Regions from separate parts of the Homo sapiens genome. Here region 2 is linked to region 1. The links come from fine-mapping of genetic effects on gene expression. Tissue or cell type: whole blood. Region 1 holds a variant in brackets; the other region holds the start of a gene. All regions are shown on one strand. Distances are from middle to middle.

What was found. PIP is the estimated chance that this variant, and not a neighbour inherited with it, causes the effect.
Region 2: it holds the start of SFN, and the variant in region 1 is fine-mapped to the expression of SFN in whole blood (TOPMed, PIP above 0.99).

The regions. Positions count from the first base shown.
Region 1 is chr1:26,831,383-26,839,642 of GRCh38, forward strand. ZDHHC18 (zDHHC palmitoyltransferase 18) reads left to right here. Exons shown (of 8, transcript NM_032283.3): 2 at 1,065-1,225. Among named protein-coding and RNA genes, the nearest start is that of ZDHHC18, 8.8 kb to the left of the region's middle. RefSeq lists enhancers at 2,347-2,446, 7,318-7,587, 7,748-8,067. The variant C/T (reference allele first, on the strand shown) is at 3,797.
Region 2 is chr1:26,859,583-26,866,212 of GRCh38, forward strand. SFN (stratifin) reads left to right here and starts at 3,567. Exons shown (of 1, transcript NM_006142.5): 1 at 3,567-4,874. The coding sequence starts at 3,631. The coding sequence ends at 4,377. RefSeq lists a silencer at 3,233-3,382 and enhancers at 3,252-4,131, 5,276-5,405, 5,616-5,925.

The DNA of each region.
Region 1 (8,260 bases):
CTGGCCTAGAAGGCCATGGTAGGGAGTTTGGATTGTATTCAAACTATATGGAAAGCAATTGGGAGGTTTTAAGCAGGGAAATGACATGATCTGATTGACATTTCCAAAAGTGGCTCTGGCTTCTGGGTGGACAGTGAGGTGACAACAGAGAGGATTGGCCATAGAGAGAGAGCCCTGATAGCTTCACTATCATGAAGCCATTCTCCCACCAGTGTCCAGAACTTCTAGAATGTTCTAGCCCTAAGATGGAGGAGGGAGCTTGAAGAGGGCTGTGGTAGGCAGCCTCCCTGGGGGACAGAGGCATGACCATTCAGCAGGCACAGGCTATTCTCTGAGGCAGCCAGGGTCAGGGGGTCTGAAAGCACTGCCTTGGGGATACCTGCCTACCTTGGGTCACAGTGACAGTGGCTGGACCATGCAGTTCCCCCAGCCCTCTACTCATTCTTCAGGTTGGAGCTTAGGATTGTCTCCTTCAGGTTGCCTTTCCTGACTGTGCTACTGCGTTCCCCTCCCCCACTAGAGCACACATCACCCTGTGTGGCAATTCCCTGTTTACATGTCTTGTTTTCCCCACTAGACCATAAGCCACAAGGGGGAGGGACTCTTGTCTTATCCGTCGTCATTATTCCTGCTGCTTATTGAAGGTGTTGCCTGCCACAGAGAAGACCTCAGTAAATATTTGTGGACTGAGTGAGTGAATGAATGAGTGAATGAACACTGCAGGATGGTTTGTCTCAGGTGACAGTCCACTAGTGTCTGCCTGAAGCTCTGTGTGTAGAGGGATTCTCTGGATGCAGAGGTTAGGAGTGCTGGGATCTATTGGACACATCTGCCATGTGCTCTGGAGGAAAGTATATCACAAGGATCAATTAGTGATGTCTGTTCCCGGTACTTATTGGGGAGTGGCTGCACTCATCAAGGAGCTGTGCCTCTGCCTCAGAGCGAGGCTGTATTCAAGATTTTGGTGGTGGTTGTTGGAATGACAGCGCCTGCCACGTGCTGTAGCCCTGTGCCGCAGGGAGCCCTTGGGGTGTCTGCTGATCTCTCTCCATCTCTCGTTCTAGCTGTCCCTACCTGGCTCGCAAGCTGACCCTTGCCATCCCCATCATCGCTGCCATCCTCTTCTTCTTCGTCATGAGCTGCCTGCTGCAGACAAGCTTCACCGACCCTGGGATCCTGCCCCGGGCCACTGTCTGTGAAGCAGCCGCCCTGGAGAAACAGATCGGTGAGGTTTCTACTCCCAGCTGAAGCTGGGTCTCCATAGCTCCACATTCCCTGACTTGGGAGGAGGCCTGGTTTTCTCTTCCAAAACTATACTAGGAACTGGGGATGCAGTCGTGAGCAAGGCAGGCTGGAGCTGACACTGGCACAGAGGGAGACAGATGATCAACAAGTGAGCAAATAAGTAAGCAAGAAATGCTGGCCAGCCAGCAAAGGCCCCGATGGCAGCCAGCGTGGAGCTGAGTAGTTCCTGGGGGCTAGGCACTGTTTTAAGCTCTTTATATGCATGATCTTATTTAATCCCCCAGTAATCCTATGAGGTAGGTACTGTTGTCATTCTCCTTTTACTGATTAATTAAATCAAGGCAAAAGAGGGTCCAAGATCACAAAGTAAGTAGAAGAGCTGAGATGAGACCTCAGTCTAGAGCACCTGCTCTTAAACATTCATATACACTTATTCATTCACTCATCAAACATTTATTGACCCCCTACTATGTGCCAGGCACTTTTCTAGATGTGATACAGCAGTGAACAAAACTGACAATAGTCCCTGTCCTCATGGAGCTTGACAGTTGAGGAGGAGGAAAGAGACAATAAATAACAAATAATTAAATATCTAGGATATCAGACAGAGAAGAAAGGAGGGAAGGAGGATGAAGGCTACAGGGAGGGTGTGTGATTTTACATAGGGTGGCCAGGGAACATCTTGTGAAGGAGGTGACATCTGAGCAAAGAAGCACCGGCCTGAACAGATGAGGGCTTGACGGTGGGGTTATCTAGGGAAGAGCCCAGTAGGTGTTGGGGAGTGGGCTAGTTTAGGTCAGGTGGTCAGGGGAGACCTCTAGGAGGAGGCGGCACTGGAGATGAGTGTGGTAGAAATACGGGGATCTGGGAAAAGTAAGGCCAAAGCCCAGAGTGGCAAACAGCCTGGGCGTGTGTGAGGAACGGCAGTGGCTGGAAAGACCCTGTGCTCCCAGGCAGCCCAGGTGGCCCTTGATTCCTTTCAGACTGCTGTGTGGGTTCCGGGGTGGCGGGGTACTGGGCCAGGTCCCTAATCTCAGCTTGCTGCACCCCAGCTCTTCCTGCTGAGAAGTGACGTGGCTACTTGCACACCTCGGGGGTTTCCGGTCCGTGGTTAGCTCCTTCCCCTAACAGCATGGTGTTCACACAGGCTTTTAAACACCCAGCTGGCCCTGAAGACATCTAGTGGCCTGTAAATGTCAGAGCCCTGCTGCATCCATCGCTAGAAATCATTTCACTAATACTCTGTGCAGCAGGGAGGGAGGGAGGGCGAGCAGCTGGAGAGGATGTTCTCTGGGCTCTGTCTGCTCTTTGTCTCATTCCTCTGCCCAGCCCCATCCTCAGCCACGCCTGCGAGGGCCACCTCCTCTCACCTACATCCAGCGTCCTACCCCTTCAAACTCTGGGTCCCTGGCCACTCCTTCAGGATCCCACGGTCTGACCTGGGCTGGCCCACCTGGCAGCTGGGGAGGCCCAGCTGTGCCCCGTTCTTCCTCCCCTTCTGGTCAGGGCTAATCATGAGGCAGGATTATTGTCCAGCTCAGCCGGACCCAGAGGTCTGGCTGCCTGGAATCCTCGGCCTCCTGTGAGCTGCGTGGATCACAGTGACAGCAGTAATCCCCTTCTTGGAAAGAGCTTGGCCGTGTGCTGAGTGCTTTCCATCTATTATCCCCACAAATCTTCACAACAGCCCAGTGAGGGCGACCCTGTTAACCAATTGTACTGATGGAGAAACGGAGGCAGGTGATCACAGGGCCAGGATAAAGAAGCAGAGACAGAGTGTGTGCCTTTCACTCCCAAACCCCTTGCTTTCTCTTCTGAGATGGCAGCAGGGACACATCTCCTTCATCCTCTTCTCCACTTGTTTCCTGTGCTCTGGGAAGCCTTCTTGACCCCAGTTGGGCCAGGCCTTCCATTGCACATTCCCAGAGCACCTTCTCCTTCCTTCTCTGAACCTGTGCTGCAACGGTGGTCATTACAAAATCATCCTTTCTGCTGGCCTGTGAGGGCATGGAATTCCAGCATCTTGTTCACCTTGTCGCCATGTAGAAGGCTCAGTGACGTTGGCTAAATGAGTAAATGAATGACTGAAGAATAGGTGAGCTTCTGTGAAGGCCCTCCTTGCTCTGTCAGGGTGACAGGTGAGGAAACAGTCAGGACATCTCCCAGTTGGGCATCATGGGTTTGTTCATTTGTGTGTTAATTCTATATGCTGACCCCTGACAGCAGAGTGAAGGCAGGTGGGGGCCAACAATGAATCTGATAGGAGCTTACTCTCATGGGTTCCAGACAAGTTGGCCCCAGGTGGGAGCCCTGACCAGCCACTGCCAGTGAGATCAGGCTTTAGAAGAGGGTCAGAGGAGTCAGGAGCATCTTCTGCCTGGGGGACTGGAGAAGCTTCCTGGAGAAGTGATGCTTGAGCTAAGTCTTTAAGTTTGGGTGGAATTCAAGCACAGGAGCTGTGCGGAGGCAGCCCTTCAGGCAGACAAAGCTGAGGGAAGAGAGAGTGGCAGAGGGAAGGAGGAGGGATGGGAACGGGCCACTGAGCAGGCCA[C/T]GTTGGCTAGAATATGAGGAGCACTTCAGATAGTTAGGGATATTAGAGATATTCCAGTTGGAAGGATGGGGTGGAATCAATCTTGTAGGGCGCTGAATGTCCCTAAGACTTTTCTTGGCGAACAGGTGCAAAGTGCAAAAGTGGCATTTTGGAGGCCTTTGAATTCTCAAACTTGAATAGAAGCCAAATTTTTGGGTGTGACCAGGAGACTTCTAACTAATTAAAGTAAAACATATTTCCCAGGGCTGGCACAGTGGCTCACGCCTGTAATCCCAGCACTTTGGGAGGCCGAGGCGGGCGGATCACAAGGTCAGGAGATTGAGACCATCCTGGCCAACATGGTGAAACCCTGTCTCTAGTAAAAATACAAAAATTAGCTGGGCATGGTGGCGTGTGCCTGTAATCCCAGCTACTCAGGAGGCTGAGGCAGAATAATCGCTTGAACCAGGGAGTCGGAGGTTGCAGTGAGCCAAGGTTGCGCCATTGCACTCCAGCCTGGTGACAGAGCAAGACTCCGTCTCAAAAAACAAAAAAAACCAAAAACATATTTCCCCGAAAATGATCAGGACTAAGATCACTGAACCTTTTCCAGAAGGTTGGGAGCTGTCTCTGAGGCAGGTGGTGCTGTTCATGTGAGCATGAACTGATTACCTGGTCCTAGGCTCATGTAGACAGTGTGGGCTTTTCCCTTTGGCACCCCAGCCCAGCAACTCCAGCCCAACAGGTCTGGCCCAGGGCTCCTGCCCTGTGGGGACAGTCTGAGGTAGAGTGACCAGCTCCTCCCAGTTTACCCAGGACCACCTGGAAAGTCTCCTGTCTTAGGAAACCACTCAATCCCAGGAAAATCAGGGCACTCGGTCACCCTCATCTGAGATCCTGTCTTGCCGGCTGGTGGGCTGTGCAGCTGGCTCACCCTGCAGGCTCTAGGCAGTTGGGAAGAGCAATATTGCTCCCAGAAGCTCCTGGTCTGATGGGAGGTGATAGAGACATCCAAATCCAAGTGACAGATGCTCACTTAGACCCTGTTACAGTTCACATGACGGACACAGAGGCTGCGTCTCTCTCCACTGCCATACACCAGCTCCCAGACCCCATCTCCTTTGTCTCCAGGACGTCTCTGCCCACTTCCCCTGGACAGACCTGCCTCGTGTTCCACCTGAACTGGCTCAGGGCTCTGCAGAACAGGCCCTGACTGGGCCTTTCCCTTCAATTGTAGTTATCTCTCCAAGATCCCAAATTTGTTCTCCCCACCCCTGCCCTGTCCCCCCACAAACCCCACAGAATTTGGGTGACTCTCTGGTGCCCTCAGCATATCAGTGATATGAGTCCAGCCTTTGTGATTTTTCCTTCTGCATCCCGCCTTGTACCTTCATTTCTTTTTTTTTCTTTTTTTCTTTTTTTTTTTTTTGAGACGGAGTCTTGCTCCGTTGCCCAGGCTGGAGTGCAGTGGCACAATCTCAGCTCACTGCAACCTCTGCCTCCCAGGTTCATGCCATTCTCCTGCCTCAGCCTCCCGAGTAGCTGGGACTACAGGCACCTGCTACCACGCCCAGCTAATTTTTCGTATTTTTAGTAGAGACGGGGTTTCACTGTGTTAGCCAGGATGGTCTCGATCTCCTGACCTTGTGATCCGCCCGTCTCAGCCTCCCAAAGTGCTGGGATTACAGGCATGAGCCACCGCATCTGGCTGTACCTTCATTTCTTTAGTATTTTCCTCCTAAATGGCTCATCTTTAAATATATATGTATAATATATATATTTCATATACATTAAATATATATTAAATGCAGCTGGGCGCAGTGGCTCATGCCTGTAATCCCAGCACATTGGGAGGCCGAAGCAGGTGGATCACAAGGTCAGGAGATCGAGACCATCCTGGCTAACAAGGTGAAGCCCCATCTCTACTAAAAAAAATACAAAAAAAATTAGCTGGGTGTGGTGGCGGCCACCTGTAGTCCCAGCTACTCGGGAGGCTGAGGCAGGAGAATGGTGTGAACCTGGGAGGCGGAGCTTGCAGTGAGCCGAGATGGCGCCACTGCACTCCAGCCTGGGCGACAGAGTGAGACTCTGTCTCAAAAAAAATATATATATATATATATAAAATATACATTTATATATTTACTACATATGTATAATATATAACATATTTAATATGTATAATATATTTAACATATTTAATATGTATAATATACATTTTACATCTATATTTAATATGCATAATATGTATTTAACATATATTTAATATGTATAATATATTTAACATATTTAATATATTATGTATATTATTTATTTATTTATTTATTTATTTATTTATTTTTTGAGACAGAGTCTCGCTCTGTCACCCAGGCTGGAGTGCAATGGTGTGATCTCAGCTTACTGCAGCCTCCACCTCCTGGGTTCAAGTGACTCTCCTGCCTCAGCCTCCCAAGTAGCTGCGATTACAGGCATGCACCACCATGCCTGGCTAATTTTTGTATCTTTAGTAGAGATGGGGTTTCACCATGTTGGCCAGGCTGGTCTTGAACTTCTGACCTCAGGTGATCCACCTGCCTCAGCCTCCCAAAGTGCTGGGATTACAGGCATGATCCACCGTGCCCAGCCCCTCTTCTATCTTCTTGAAAACTCACTCATGAGATTAAGGCAAGCTGCAGTCTACCCCAGCCACTGCTCTTCTCCTACTGGTCCCTGGCACCCCCAGCCACGCTGTGCACTGGATGCCTCAGTGCGTTTGCTTGTGCTTGTGCTGTCCCCGCCTGCCGTGGTGAGCCAGAGTGCTCATTCTTTCTGATCCAGCTTTGCTGTTACTTCTTTTGTTGCTTGCTTTTTTTTTTTTTTAAGACAGGGTTTTGCTCTTGTTGCCCAGGCTGGAGTGCAGTGGTGAGATCTCGGCTCACCACAACCTCTGCCTCTCGGGTTCAAGCGATTCTCCTGCCTCAGCCTCCCGAGTAGCTGGGATTATGGGCATGCACCACCATGCACCCTAATTTTGTATTTTTAGTAGAGATGGAGTTTCTCCATGTTGGTCAGGCTGATCTCAAACTCCCGACCTCCGGTGATCCGCCCGCCTCAGCCTCCCAAAGTGCTGGAATTACAGGTGTGAGCCACTGTGCCTGGCCCCTTGCTTTCTTTTTAAATTATTTTTTGTAGAAACAGGGTCTTGCTGTGTTGCCCAGGCTGATCTCTCAAACTCCTGGACTCAAGCAGTCCTCCAGCCTTACCCTCCCAAAGTGTTGGGATTACAGTCACGAGCCACTGCACTCGGCCTGTTGCTTTCTTGAATGCTGCTTCCTGCCTCCACCCCACATATTTCCCTCTGTGTTCTTGAGGCATTGAGTATAGGCACCAGTAATGTCATTAATTGAATAGCTATTTAGGTCAGATCTTGATATTATGTTATTTCTGATTTGTGTAAAATTTTACAAGGTTGATGTCATCATTACCCATTCTACAGGTGAGGAAAGTGAGGCTTAGAGATTGATCAGCTTCTTAAGTTTACAGGCTAACAATTGGCCATGCCAGGGTTCAAAATAAGATTAGGCAGGCCCAGAGTCACCACACAGAGGCACTGCCTTGTAGGAGGACTCTTAATTATCCACTTCTGTCTGACTCTGCCCTCAGGCGGGCTCTTCCTGTATCCACAGGCCTAGCACTAAGCCTGGTATGTGGTGAAGGCCCCATGAACCCCAGAGATGGACAGAAGTGGTCTGGGAGGGTTATGGTGACCTAGCACTCGAGGCCTGGGAGCTGTGGCTGACCTTGAGCTGGCCTTAGAGGCGGGGAGACTGCAGTCCTGCAGCTGTTTCCTCTGCAGGTGACAACAGTGGAAGGGCAGAGGGCAGTCAGGGCCTTCTCAGCAGCCCGCAGCCAGCCCTGGGGAACTTCCACAGCCCCAGCCTTTCAGGCTCTGACCGCAGAAGGCCTGCCTGCTCCTCTCCGAGAGCTGTCTTAGGGTGGGGAAATTCCTTTGCCCTCACAGCCATTCAGTGACGAGTAGCCTTGCTTTTCGTCTCATTTTCACATCCTCAGAGCTTTGGTTTCTGCCTGGAAGGCAGCAGGAGGGCCTTGCTGGCATAAGGGCACCTTTTTACTTGGGAAGAGCCTGGCATAGCAGAAACAGCCCTGGAGTAGATCTTAGATTCCCTGAGGGCAGGGATAGCATCACTTACCATCACTCCCTTCTTTCTTCTTTTCTACAACAAATATTTTTTGAACATCCACAGTATGTCAGGCAGGCACAGGGTGAACAAAACCAATATCTTTGACTCATTTCTATGAATTTGCCCCTTACCTTCCCTGCCACCCCCAGGCCTTGTACAGTAACTTGCACATAGTAGGTGCTCATGTGTGAAAGAGTGAACAAATGAGTGCCCTGGAAGACAAGGGTCCTAGTTTCAGCCCCACCTTCTATTATTGGAGTGAACTTGCTTTCCCATCTGTAACTCACAGGCACGGATCCCCTTGCCT
Region 2 (6,630 bases), 27 kb after region 1:
CCCAACACAAATTAGTAAACTTTCTTAAAACATTATGAGATTTTTTTGCAAATTTTTTTTTTTTTTTAGCTCATCAGTTATTGGTAGTGTTGGTATATTTTATGTGTGGCCCAAGACAATTCTTCCAATGTGGCCCAGGGAAGCCAAAAGATTGGACACGCCTGTCCTAGATGGAGAGGAAGGAGGCAGTGCTGAGCACATCTGGCCATTCATCCATCTGGAGAGAGAAGGCTATGGGCAAACTGCTTCCTCTCCCCTGTAGACACCCAGCTGGGAAGGTCTGGCCTTTGGCTAAGTCCTGGCTTGGGGTCCTTCCTCATTTCACAGAACCTAACTCTATGTTAGTGCTTTGTGAGTATATGTTGATCATAATAAAGTTGACGGGATTTTTTCACATGATAATAATAGTTGTCATCTGGCCGGGCATGGTGGCTTATGCCTATAATTTCAGCACTTTGGAAGGCTGAGGCAGGTGGATCACTTGAGGTCAGCTGTTCGAGACCAGCCTGGCCAACATGGTGAAACCACATCTCTACTTAAAAAAAAAAAAAATACAAAAATTAGCTGGGTGTGGTGGTGCACCCTTGTAATCCCAGCTACTCGGGAGGCTGAGGCAGGAGAATCACTTGAACCCAGGAGGTGGAGGTTGCAGTGAGCTGAGATTGTGCCACTACACTCCAGCCTGGGTGACAAGAGCGAAACTCCGTCTCAAAAAAAAGAAAATAATAATAATAATAGTTGCCATCCATTCTACTGTGCTTTCCATTAACTCGTGTAATCCTCACAAGTCCCATTTTATAGTTACAGGAACTGAGGCTCACAGAGCTTAAATCACTTGGCCAAGGCCACAAACAGCTATAAGAATTACATTTAGGCAGTCTGATTCCAAAGATACTAGTCTATTCTGTATCTCATAGACAAACAATACATATTCACTTTTTTGTTGTTGTTTTGTTTTGAGACGGAGTCTTGCTCTGTCACCCAGGCTGGAGTGCAGTGGCGCCATCTCGGCTCACTGCAAGCTCCGCCTCCCGGGTTCAAGCGATTCTCCTGCCTCAGCCTCCCGAGTAGCTGGGACTACAGGCATGTGCCACCATGCCCGGCTAATTTTTTGTATTTTTAGTAGAGACAGGGTTTTCCTGGGTTAGCCAGAATGGTCTCGATCTCCTGACCTTGTGATCCACCCACCTCAGCCTCCCAAAGTGCTGAGATGACAGGCGTGAGCCACCGCGTCCGACCTATATTCACTATTTATAAATTGGAGAGAATAAGAAAATCAAAAGGGCCAGGTGTAGTGACTCACACCTGTAATCCCAGCACTTTGGGAAGCCAAGGCAGGAGGATTGCTTGAACCCAGAAGTTCGAGACCAGCCTGGGCAACATGGTGAGACCCTGTCTCTACAAAAAAATACAAAAATTAGCTGGGCGTTGTGGTGAGCACCTTATTCTTAGGAAGCTGAGGCAGGAGGATCACCTGAGGCCAAGGAGGTTGAGACTGCAGTGAGCTGTGATCATACCACTGTACTTCAGCCTGGACATCAGAGTAAGACCCTATCTCTAAAAAGGAAATTGAGAAGAAAGAAAATCAAAGGGAAGCAAAATCACTCACTCTCACTACCTCAAGATACCCTCTAGAAGTTGGTATTTTAGTGTGGTTCCTATTGTTTTCTGTGTCAGTTCTCTGATTTGAGCAAAATCTTTGGGACGTCAAACTTAAAATCCCCTTTACTTCCTTGGAAACCCTGTAGCATTAGCCCAGACATGTCCCTACTCCTCCTTGTGGCAAAGAGAAGGATCTCGTCTTTGGTCCCCAGAGTTCTGGCCTAAGCCTCCCTCCAGGAGGGAAGATGAGTGTTCAGACACTCAGAGTAGCTGGGGGAGACACAGGCCTGTGAAATTATCCTGGCTCAACTATTAGGTCGGCAGAATCCCAGTGAAGGGAGCCCTACCTCTGAGCCCCATCTAAGCTTTGGCTATGGGTGGGGCAGATAAGCAGGAATCCATCCCTATAGGCTCAATGCCAACACCCTTAGGTGAAACTCTTGATGAAACTTGAGGCCAGGGCTCCGGCAAGCAGGGAAAGAACGTTGGCAACAGAGGTCTCCATCTCTGAGGACTCTGCCAGGGGTCAGAGATGGGGCAATGGTCAAAAGGAAGGAACAGGCCAGGCACAGTGGCTCATGCCCATAATCCCAGCACTTTGGGAGGCTGAGGCAGGAGGATCGCTTGAGCCCAGGAGTTTGAGACCTGCCTGGGCAATGTAGTGAGATCTGCTCTCTATTTAAAAAAAAAAAAAAGGAAAGAACAAGTAAACTTCTGAGAAACAGGCTGGGGGAGGCATCACGTAGCTGGAATTGCTGCCCCATAAAACAGAATGGTATGTGTCACTGCCACCTCCCTTTCTCAGTCCTCTCTCTCCCCAGGTTGCTAGCGTCCCCCCTGGGGGATCAAACTGGACTGCTTCCCAGCCTCAGACAGAGAGCAGTCTGAGTCAGGCAGGAAAGTGGGACAGCCGGGGAGCTGGACCCCACCCTCTGTGAGCCCCGCTGGTACCTGATGGCATGTGGCTTGGAGAGGGCAGGTGACCTGGCGTGGAGGGCCAGAGGGTAAATCCTCAAACAAGTGGCAACAGGCCACCAACTTGAAAGGGAAAATTGTGTAGTGATGGGAAATGTGTCCAACAAACCTACTGGGTGACTAATTACAAAGGCTGGGCTGGAGCTTCAGAGGCTGCTTGTTAAACACTTCATTAAGCGGCACTCTGAAAGCTGCCACCTGCGCATTCTGGGAGCTCAGAGGGGACCCTGAGGGGGAATGAGGCCTGGAGGATGGAACCATCTTCAGGTAGACTGAGAAGGAGCCTGGATCTCACTTCCAAACACAGTCTGGAGCTCATAGGTCAGAGGCCTCAATGGGAGAAAAGCTAAAGGAAGAGGGTGCAGAAAGGAGTTTCAGGGAATTGGTGGCTATGTGACTTTGAGCAAATCTCACCCCTCTCTGAGACTTAGTGTTCCCATCTCTATGGTCCTGTGTGTGTCACAGAGACATGGTGGGGATTAAATTCGATCGTGAATATGAAAGTGCTTGGGAAACTCCATGGCCCTACCTAAACATGAGTTATCCTCACCTGAACCAAGGGGGGAAGTTACCTGGCAGGATTAGGAACCCCATCCTCCTGAACCTTTATGGGCTCTGTCGAGGCTGAAGCAGCCAGGGGCTAAAGCCGTCCTTAGCCCCTGGAAGGGCACTGTGAAAGTGGATCTGATTTGAGAAGCCGTTTCCTGATGTGGGCAGCCATGTGATGCCAGCCCCGAACAAGAGGGGGCAGCCTGGAGCCTGGAAAGGTGCCAGTGCAGGTGGGGCCCACGCCCAGATTTCTCCTGCTGACTGTTCTGATGATTCACCCCCACATCCCAGCCTTTTTACCTTTACTGCAGAGCCGGAAAGGGTGTGGGGAAGAGAGGAGAGGGAGGCAGGTCTTGGGCCCTGGTCCCGCCCCCTGCTCCTCCCCACCCTTCTCTGGGCCTGGCCACCCAGCCAAAAGGCAGGCCAAGAGCAGGAGAGACACAGAGTCCGGCATTGGTCCCAGGCAGCAGTTAGCCCGCCGCCCGCCTGTGTGTCCCCAGAGCCATGGAGAGAGCCAGTCTGATCCAGAAGGCCAAGCTGGCAGAGCAGGCCGAACGCTATGAGGACATGGCAGCCTTCATGAAAGGCGCCGTGGAGAAGGGCGAGGAGCTCTCCTGCGAAGAGCGAAACCTGCTCTCAGTAGCCTATAAGAACGTGGTGGGCGGCCAGAGGGCTGCCTGGAGGGTGCTGTCCAGTATTGAGCAGAAAAGCAACGAGGAGGGCTCGGAGGAGAAGGGGCCCGAGGTGCGTGAGTACCGGGAGAAGGTGGAGACTGAGCTCCAGGGCGTGTGCGACACCGTGCTGGGCCTGCTGGACAGCCACCTCATCAAGGAGGCCGGGGACGCCGAGAGCCGGGTCTTCTACCTGAAGATGAAGGGTGACTACTACCGCTACCTGGCCGAGGTGGCCACCGGTGACGACAAGAAGCGCATCATTGACTCAGCCCGGTCAGCCTACCAGGAGGCCATGGACATCAGCAAGAAGGAGATGCCGCCCACCAACCCCATCCGCCTGGGCCTGGCCCTGAACTTTTCCGTCTTCCACTACGAGATCGCCAACAGCCCCGAGGAGGCCATCTCTCTGGCCAAGACCACTTTCGACGAGGCCATGGCTGATCTGCACACCCTCAGCGAGGACTCCTACAAAGACAGCACCCTCATCATGCAGCTGCTGCGAGACAACCTGACACTGTGGACGGCCGACAACGCCGGGGAAGAGGGGGGCGAGGCTCCCCAGGAGCCCCAGAGCTGAGTGTTGCCCGCCACCGCCCCGCCCTGCCCCCTCCAGTCCCCCACCCTGCCGAGAGGACTAGTATGGGGTGGGAGGCCCCACCCTTCTCCCCTAGGCGCTGTTCTTGCTCCAAAGGGCTCCGTGGAGAGGGACTGGCAGAGCTGAGGCCACCTGGGGCTGGGGATCCCACTCTTCTTGCAGCTGTTGAGCGCACCTAACCACTGGTCATGCCCCCACCCCTGCTCTCCGCACCCGCTTCCTCCCGACCCCAGGACCAGGCTACTTCTCCCCTCCTCTTGCCTCCCTCCTGCCCCTGCTGCCTCTGATCGTAGGAATTGAGGAGTGTCCCGCCTTGTGGCTGAGAACTGGACAGTGGCAGGGGCTGGAGATGGGTGTGTGTGTGTGTGTGTGTGTGTGTGTGTGTGTGCGCGCGCGCCAGTGCAAGACCGAGATTGAGGGAAAGCATGTCTGCTGGGTGTGACCATGTTTCCTCTCAATAAAGTTCCCCTGTGACACTCCTCCTGTCTCTCTTCCAGTTCTTGGCGATGGGCTGGGAGTGGGACTGGAATCTGACTTAGAGACCCTGACTTTGGACCTCTGAGTTAGGGCCCTGAACTCCCTAGGTGGCTCAGTGGCCCGCACGCAAGACTTTGAGTCCAGGTGAGGCCGGGGTCCGGCTCTCTCCATCACGGCGGCCCCAGTCAAACTGGACGGGACCGGGAGGGTCGGGTGAACCCACAGGAGGCGCCGTGGCTCCTCTGCCGGGCTGAGGGGAGGTGAGTGGGAGCCACGGCGCGGGAGGCTGACGAGCTCTGGTGGAGCGGGGCAGGAAATAGTGAAGTCTCCGGCGTGAGATCTAAGGACAGCGCCGCAGTAGTGAGCGGCACTGAGCACCCGATTTGCAGGCGGGTCACAGTTTCATCAAGGGCTCAGATCTCAGCGGAGGGGAGTACGATCTGAGGAAGGGGTATAGCGCCGCCAAAAAAGCCTAGATCTTAGGAGAGGGTCACGTCCCACAGAGTTCGGAGATGGAGACAAAAGGAAACGGGCTGAAGGGGAGGAAGGACGAGCTGGGTGGGAAGGGCCGCTGGGAGCTGTGCCTACCGAGCCCGCTGCCTGAGCTCTCTGCAGCCAGCAACACGCCGGAACCTGCAGCCGCCTTGCTCCGTCCCGCCTTCGCAGCCCTGGACTGGAGGCGGGGCCCGAGGCCAATACCGCCCAATCACAGGAGGGAGCTGCCCCAGGGTACCGCCCCGGGGGCCTGACTGGCCAATGGGAAAGTGAGCGGCGGAACGCGCGCGGCGAGTTTCCCGCCGCCCGCCAGGCCTGGCGGACACCACGACTCGCTGACTGACTGAGAGGCGCCCCCGCCGCCCGCTGAGCGCCGAGGGGCGGAGCTTTCCCGGTTTCACTCAGACAAGTTGCCGCCCGTCCGGCCCGAGAGCTGGGAACCCTCTAGAGCAGCGGGACGAGCCAGGATCGCAAAATGCAGTGCTTGCCCGTTGAGTCATCAGCTCACCCGGCTGGGCCTGGGCCGGGCCGGCCGCGGGGGTTGGCTGGAAAAAGGCCGCCAAGATGCCCCCACCACACTCCGAAATCCAAGCAGCCCTGGACCTGTCGCCGAGAGGCTTGGATTGTGTCCCTGGCTGGCTGTGCGACCTTGGAAAAGCCGTTATACCTCCCTGGGCCTCAGTTTCCCTCTTGTATCATAAGGGGCTTGGACTAAAGGCTAACACAAGAGTGAAAATGGCGGTTTTGGCCGGGCGCGGTGGCTCACGCCTGTAATCCCAGCACTCTGGGAGGCCGAGGCGGGCGTATCACGAGGTCAGGAGATCGAGGCCATCCTGGCTATCACAATGAAACCCCGTCTCTACTAAAAATACAAAAAATTAGCCGGGAGTGATGGCGGGCACCTGTAGTACCAGCTACTCGGGAGGCTGAGGTAGGAGAATGGCATGAGCCCAGGAGGCGGAGCTTGCAGTGAGCCGAGATCACGCCACTGCACTCCAGCCTGGGCGACAGAGCGAGACTCGGTCCCCCCACCCAAGAAAAAGAGAAAATTTGCGATTTTGGACTCAGACAGCCTGGGTTTGACTCCCAGCCTGCCTTGGCCAAGGCTCTTAATCTTGCTTACCTTTGTGTCCTCATTTATAAACAGGGGAACTGAAAAACAGTACCTTCCTTTTATAGTTGCTGTAAAGTAACCCATAGGACAGACTCAACAAATGTTAGCTTTTTTTTTTTTTTTAAGACAGATTCTCGCTCTGTCGCCCA